Linked DNA regions of Homo sapiens. The protein of the gene in region 2 purifies or fractionates together with the protein of the main gene of each other region. This does not show direct contact. Each region holds a gene or a part of one and is shown on either strand. Other genes may lie near its edges. The genes, in order: PROS1 and PROC.

Evidence for each region.
Region 1: the proteins of PROC (region 2) and PROS1 purify together in Homo sapiens (affinity purification with mass spectrometry; one large-scale study listed by BioGRID and IntAct). This does not show direct contact.

The regions. Positions count from the first base shown.
Region 1 is NC_000003.12:93,872,732-93,876,550, forward strand, and holds the end of PROS1 (vitamin K-dependent protein S isoform 2 preproprotein), read right to left. Parts: intron 1,675-3,819; coding exon 1,514-1,674; 3' UTR 320-1,513; downstream 1-319. UniProt on the Homo sapiens protein: Anticoagulant plasma protein; it is a cofactor to activated protein C in the degradation of coagulation factors Va and VIIIa. It helps to prevent coagulation and stimulating fibrinolysis.
Region 2 is NC_000002.12:127,424,757-127,428,575, forward strand, and holds part of PROC (vitamin K-dependent protein C isoform 10 preproprotein), read left to right. Parts: exon of another isoform or gene 1-1,328; coding exon 1,329-1,471; exon of another isoform or gene 1,472-2,348; coding exon 2,349-2,466; exon of another isoform or gene 2,467-3,508; intron 3,509-3,600; coding exon 3,601-3,819. UniProt on the Homo sapiens protein: Protein C is a vitamin K-dependent serine protease that regulates blood coagulation by inactivating factors Va and VIIIa in the presence of calcium ions and phospholipids. Exerts a protective effect on the endothelial cell barrier function.

The DNA.
Region 1 (3,819 bases), on a different chromosome or scaffold from region 2:
ACTCCGCCCCTTTCTTTCACTTTTTTTTCCCTCTCTCATGTATGTTTTCTCTGTTTTTCTTTTTCCTTGCTCTTTTACATGAATGTAATTATCAATAGTCACTTGCTGATATTCATCCCCCATAGTACCTGGTGGCAATTGGGAAACAAATTATATTTAGCAAGACAATTTATGGTTTGTGTCAAAAGATACATGTTACTTTTGCTTCTCTTCACCTTCTGAGCTCCAGTCTACCACCCAACCATAAATATTATTCAAATATTGGAGCTTTATCTGTCTTTTAACTGAAGAACTACTTCGTTGTATGAAGAGTTAAATGTCTATTATGTAATTTTGTTTTATTCAAACAGTTGATATAATAAAGATATTCACATGCATTTTAAAATTATACACCGATTTATTATAAGTGATATAAAATACAGTGAAAAGAATTTATTGTTAAAAACTGTCAGTGAAACATCTGATACACATCTGGCTATGAATGGTAGATTCAAACGTGATAAAACTGCCACTTGAAATGCATCACAGTACCAGCAGGCACGTGGCAATCTTACCTCCTTACTTCTTTGATTACAATGATACGATATTCACTATATCCCTCTGTGGTTGTCCTTTTGTTAAAATTTGTTCTGGTTTTCATAGTTCCTTTTGTACTTCAACAATCACATTTTGGCAACTTACTCTGGTAATTAAAAGTTGGATTCAAGGAAAACTATGAACTCCCACATTTGTTCATTCTCCTTTCCATCCCTGAATTCTGTCTTTTGTAATGTAGACCTTGTGTGACCCACACAGCAAAATTTAAAAAATGTACCCACTTCAGATTTCCCCACCTATCCAACCTAATCTGATATCTCATCCTGACAGACTGCAGCTGCCAAGAAGAAGATTCCTGTGCTGCTCTCAGGAAAATATGTCCCACTTGTTTTCTAATTCAATAAAGATACTGGTTTAAATGTGAAGCCACACAAGAGAAAGATGAAGCCAAAGCTGTTCCCCCTGAGGAATTGTTTTGAAATAAGGCATTAGGACCCTCCATTCAATTCATATTTAATAGACCACCATCTCTTCTGCCTTCATCAGGAAAAAAACAAAAACATAAACAAAATAGTATCTGCCTATGATTAATAGTATTTAATTACACGCACTTTTGTTTGAGTTTACTTCCTTGCTTTCTGAAAAAAACATAGGTATTTAGACACTAGTTCATGATGATAAAATTAAAATTTAGTTTTACAAACAAAAATTGAAACTGTCATTTGTAGGAAAAAAATTCAAATTTAAAATTGTTATTTTTCACTATTCTTAGATAGCAAGAGAAGTAAGAATTTCTTTACTGTGATTTATATCACAACAGAATTTTTTTCCTTGACAAAGGACCTTTTAAAAATCCCAGGAAAGGACCACAAAATAATCAAAGACTGCACATTGTAAATAAAACCCTTCAGCTGTTATTGAAACATAAGTATAATTACACACAAGGAAAAGGTATTATAAGCAGAGAAAAGATGCCTTAAGAATTCTTTGTCTTTTTCCAAACTGATGGACATGAGTGAGCTCTAATATCATTATGTTTAGAAATGGCTTCATCCAGATCCAACTGTACACCATTAATATTCACTTCCATGCAGCCATTATAAAAGGCATTCACTGGTGTGGCACTGAATGGAACATCTGTAAAAGGAAAATATTAGAATATTAGTCCAAGACTTTTAGCATCTTGTTTGTTTACAGTGAGAGAAGTCATTCAGACTTCCTGTTTCCAACCAAATTCTAATCCTAAAGGAAAAGTTAATAGTGAAATTCTATTCCATAAATACATGTTAAGTGACGCCGATATACATGTTACTGTACTTCATTGAATTCAGCATGTCATGAGTTCCTCAGATTTCATAAACACAATTAGTTCCATTTAAACTTAAACACATTTGAGGGAGAGTAGAAACAAGCATATTCTTGTGATATTCTATTTTTATTATACAAATAACATACTATTTTCTCTTTAAACTTAAGCAACAGTTTAAGCATTGTTAAATCATTTTCTTAACTCCAAATTATAGCTACTTGGGAATCTCTTTTAAATGTCATGATCAATATATCTCTTTTATTATTGTTGGAATAAAAGCAGATTTCTGTATTTTTCCAAAGAAACAATTTTTTTGTTGAGCATACAATAGGTCATGATACAGGATTCACTTTCATGTACTATTTAGAGTTCCTAAAAATAACAATTTTCCTTCCTCTTTTTTGGCCTCTCCTCTCCATTAATCTTAACTCACAATGGATATTCTTTAGCCCTTATTCTTCATCTTCAGTACCTTATGCCAAAAAAAAACCTTTAAATTTTCAACTTCTAACTTGCCAACACAGTGAATAAAGTTCCTACTTTACTATGACTGTGAGCTCATAGCATTTGTTAAGAATCCCTTTCAAGTTGGGCTAAACATCATAGATTATGCCACTTTTCCTTTTTTGAGAAAAGAAATTACTCAAATTCATTCGATTTTGAGGAAAGAAATTACTCAAAATCATTCATTTCTCTTGGGTTTTAGTACTTCACATGGAATTTTACATGCCTACTTTGCATGTAATTAATAATTTACCCATCTCACAGTTTATACTCTTAATATCTCAATATTTAGCTCCTCTCAAATCTTCCCCACTCTTTCTCTCAAGACATTTTGCCTGAAGTTAGTCCTCAGTGCTGTTGCCAAAATCCCGAAACCACTGAAATTTTGATAATTCTACTTCTTTTAAACTCTTTGTTGGTTTGATTTCCTAAAATTGCATTCAACTAACTTGTGGATAAGGTAGTAGGTAGATTTCAATATAGAATTTATTCATTTAAACTATAATTTTACTCCCTAATAATTAGGCATGCTCACTACTTACCTCTATCTATCTATCTATCTATCTATCTATCTATCTATCTATCTATCTATCTATCATCTATCTATCTGTCTGTCTTTCTATAGCTTTTAAAGCCTATTTACTTCTATTTCCCAAAACCCCAGATACAATTTCCATATATGGGAAATCAAGACCATGAGCAGTTTAAGCAGTATATTGAAGGTTATCAGAGGTCCAGACATCAAACTCAGAATTCTCCCCATGAGAATAAATTGCAAATGTCATCTGAAAATGCTTCTAAATAACTTTCTGCCTCTAATTTTCCATTTAAAGTGAAATATTGGTGCCAATTTCATATTTTCCAATATTCAGTTAAAGATGAATCTGTTTTTCCTCCAGTTTTCCCCATCTTGGTAAATGGAATCTCCATCCATGCAACTGCTCATGCCAGATACCTAAAAGTCATCCTTATACCTGTCTTTCAGTTATTAAATCCTATTAATTTTGTTTCTAACACATATCTCCGATCTATTTACTGTCCATCATCTTCATTGTTATCACCCTGGTCCTGCAGCTTCCTCAGTTTCCTCATCTGTAAAATGGGGATAATAATAGCACTTACCTCACTGGACTATTTTGAAAATTAAACAAGTGGATATATTTGAAGCACGTTAAACAGTGCCCAGACTGTTTGTTTTGCAATAGTTGATGGTAGTTAGATACTACAACTATTGTCACTGCTCACGCCTGTAATCCCAGCACTTTGGGAGGCCGAGGCGAGCGGATCGCAAGGTCAGGAGATCAAGACCATCCTGGTTAACACGGTGAAACCCCCTCTCTACTAAAAATACAAAAAGATTAGCCGGGTGTGGTGGCGGGCACCTGTAGTCCCAGCTACTCGGGAGGTTGAGGCAGGAGAATGGCGTGAACCCAGGAGGCGGAGCTTGCAGTGAGCCGAGATCGTGCCAC
Region 2 (3,819 bases):
ATGCCTGGTGGGCCTGTTGGCCTGTGGGTTTCCTGCAAGGCCTTGGGAAGGCCCTGTCATTGGCAGAACCCCAGATCGTGAGGGCTTTCCTTTTAGGCTGCTTTCTAAGAGGACTCCTCCAAGCTCTTGGAGGATGGAAGACGCTCACCCATGGTGTTCGGCCCCTCAGAGCAGGGTGGGGCAGGGGAGCTGGTGCCTGTGCAGGCTGTGGACATTTGCATGACTCCCTGTGGTCAGCTAAGAGCACCACTCCTTCCTGAAGCGGGGCCTGAAGTCCCTAGTCAGAGCCTCTGGTTCACCTTCTGCAGGCAGGGAGAGGGGAGTCAAGTCAGTGAGGAGGGCTTTCGCAGTTTCTCTTACAAACTCTCAACATGCCCTCCCACCTGCACTGCCTTCCTGGAAGCCCCACAGCCTCCTATGGTTCCGTGGTCCAGTCCTTCAGCTTCTGGGCGCCCCCATCACGGGCTGAGATTTTTGCTTTCCAGTCTGCCAAGTCAGTTACTGTGTCCATCCATCTGCTGTCAGCTTCTGGAATTGTTGCTGTTGTGCCCTTTCCATTCTTTTGTTATGATGCAGCTCCCCTGCTGACGACGTCCCATTGCTCTTTTAAGTCTAGATATCTGGACTGGGCATTCAAGGCCCATTTTGAGCAGAGTCGGGCCGACCTTTCAGCCCTCAGTTCTCCATGGAGTATGCGCTCTCTTCTTGGCAGGGAGGCCTCACAAACATGCCATGCCTATTGTAGGAGCTCTCCAAGAATGCTCACCTCCTTCTCCCTGTAATTCCTTTCCTCTGTGAGGAGCTCAGCAGCATCCCATTATGAGACCTTACTAATCCCAGGGATCACCCCCAACAGCCCTGGGGTACAATGAGCTTTTAAGAAGTTTAACCACCTATGTAAGGAGACACAGGCAGTGGGCGATGCTGCCTGGCCTGACTCTTGCCATTGGGTGGTACTGTTTGTTGACTGACTGACTGACTGACTGGAGGGGGTTTGTAATTTGTATCTCAGGGATTACCCCCAACAGCCCTGGGGTACAATGAGCCTTCAAGAAGTTTAACAACCTATGTAAGGACACACAGCCAGTGGGTGATGCTGCCTGGTCTGACTCTTACCATTCAGTGGCACTGTTTGTTGACTGACTGACTGACTGACTGGCTGACTGGAGGGGGTTCATAGCTAATATTAATGGAGTGGTCTAAGTATCATTGGTTCCTTGAACCCTGCACTGTGGCAAAGTGGCCCACAGGCTGGAGGAGGACCAAGACAGGAGGGCAGTCTCGGGAGGAGTGCCTGGCAGGCCCCTCACCACCTCTGCCTACCTCAGTGAAGTTCCCTTGTGGGAGGCCCTGGAAGCGGATGGAGAAGAAGCGCAGTCACCTGAAACGAGACACAGAAGACCAAGAAGACCAAGTAGATCCGCGGCTCATTGATGGGAAGATGACCAGGCGGGGAGACAGCCCCTGGCAGGTGGGAGGCGAGGCAGCACCGGCTGCTCACGTGCTGGGTCCGGGATCACTGAGTCCATCCTGGCAGCTATGCTCAGGGTGCAGAAACCGAGAGGGAAGCGCTGCCATTGCGTTTGGGGGATGATGAAGGTGGGGGATGCTTCAGGGAAAGATGGACGCAACCTGAGGGGAGAGGAGCAGCCAGGGTGGGTGAGGGGAGGGGCATGGGGGCATGGAGGGGTCTGCAGGAGGGAGGGTTACAGTTTCTAAAAAGAGCTGGAAAGACACTGCTCTGCTGGCGGGATTTTAGGCAGAAGCCCTGCTGATGGGAGAGGGCTAGGAGGGAGGGCCGGGCCTGAGTACCCCTCCAGCCTCCACATGGGAACTGACACTTACTGGGTTCCCCTCTCTGCCAGGCATGGGGGAGATAGGAACCAACAAGTGGGAGTATTTGCCCTGGGGACTCAGACTCTGCAAGGGTCAGGACCCCAAAGACCCGGCAGCCCAGTGGGACCACAGCCAGGACGGCCCTTCAAGATAGGGGCTGAGGGAGGCCCAAGGGGAACATCCAGGCAGCCTGGGGGCCACAAAGTCTTCCTGGAAGACACAAGGCCTGGCCAAGCCTCTAAGGATGAGAGGAGCTCGCTGGGCGATGTTGGGTGTGGCTGAGGGTGACTGAAACAGTATGAACAGTGCAGGAACAGCATGGGCAAAGGCAGGAAGACACCCTGGGACAGGCTGACACTGTAAAATGGGCAAAAATAGAAAACGCCAGAAAGGGCCTAAGCCTATGCCCATATGACCAGGGAACCCAGGAAAGTGCATATGAAACCCAGGTGCCCTGGACTGGAGGCTGTCAGGAGGCAGCCCTGTGATGTCATCATCCCACCCCATTCCAGGTGGTCCTGCTGGACTCAAAGAAGAAGCTGGCCTGCGGGGCAGTGCTCATCCACCCCTCCTGGGTGCTGACAGCGGCCCACTGCATGGATGAGTCCAAGAAGCTCCTTGTCAGGCTTGGTATGGGCTGGAGCCAGGCAGAAGGGGGCTGCCAGAGGCCTGGGTAGGGGGACCAGGCAGGCTGTTCAGGTTTGGGGGACCCCGCTCCCCAGGTGCTTAAGCAAGAGGCTTCTTGAGCTCCACAGAAGGTGTTTGGGGGGAAGAGGCCTATGTGCCCCCACCCTGCCCACCCATGTACACCCAGTATTTTGCAGTAGGGGGTTCTCTGGTGCCCTCTTCGAATCTGGGCACAGGTACCTGCACACACATGTTTGTGAGGGGCTACACAGACCTTCACCTCTCCACTCCCACTCATGAGGAGCAGGCTGTGTGGGCCTCAGCACCCTTGGGTGCAGAGACCAGCAAGGCCTGGCCTCAGGGCTGTGCCTCCCACAGACTGACAGGGATGGAGCTGTACAGAGGGAGCCCTAGCATCTGCCAAAGCCACAAGCTGCTTCCCTAGCAGGCTGGGGGCACCTATGCATTGGCCCCGATCTATGGCAATTTCTGGAGGGGGGGTCTGGCTCAACTCTTTATGCCAAAAAGAAGGCAAAGCATATTGAGAAAGGCCAAATTCACATTTCCTACAGCATAATCTATGGCCAGTGGCCCCCCGTGGGGCTTGGCTTAGAATTCCCAGGTGCTCTTCCCAGGGAACCATCAGTCTGGACTGAGAGGACCTTCTCTCTCAGGTGGGACCCGGCCCTGTCCTCCCTGGCAGTGCCGTGTTCTGGGGGTCCTCCTCTCTGGGTCTCACTGCCCCTGGGGTCTCTCCAGCTACCTTTGCTCCACGTTCCTTTGTGGCTCTGGTCTGTGTCTGGGGTTTCCAGGGGTCTCGGGCTTCCCTGCTGCCCATTCCTTCTCTGGTCTCACGGCTCCGTGACTCCTGAAAACCAACCAGCATCCTACCTCTTTGGGATTGACACCTGTTGGCCACTCCTTCTGGCAGGAAAAGTCACCGTTGATAGGGTTCCACGGCATAGACAGGTGGCTCCGCGCCAGTGCCTGGGACGTGTGGGTGCACAGTCTCCGGGTGAACCTTCTTCAGGCCCTCTGCCCAGGCCTGCAGGGGCACAGCAGTGGGTGGGCCTCAGGAAAGTGCCACTGGGGAGAGGCTCCCCGCAGCCCACTCTGACTGTGCCCTCTGCCCTGCAGGAGAGTATGACCTGCGGCGCTGGGAGAAGTGGGAGCTGGACCTGGACATCAAGGAGGTCTTCGTCCACCCCAACTACAGCAAGAGCACCACCGACAATGACATCGCACTGCTGCACCTGGCCCAGCCCGCCACCCTCTCGCAGACCATAGTGCCCATCTGCCTCCCGGACAGCGGCCTTGCAGAGCGCGAGCTCAATCAGGCCGGCCAGGAGACCCTCG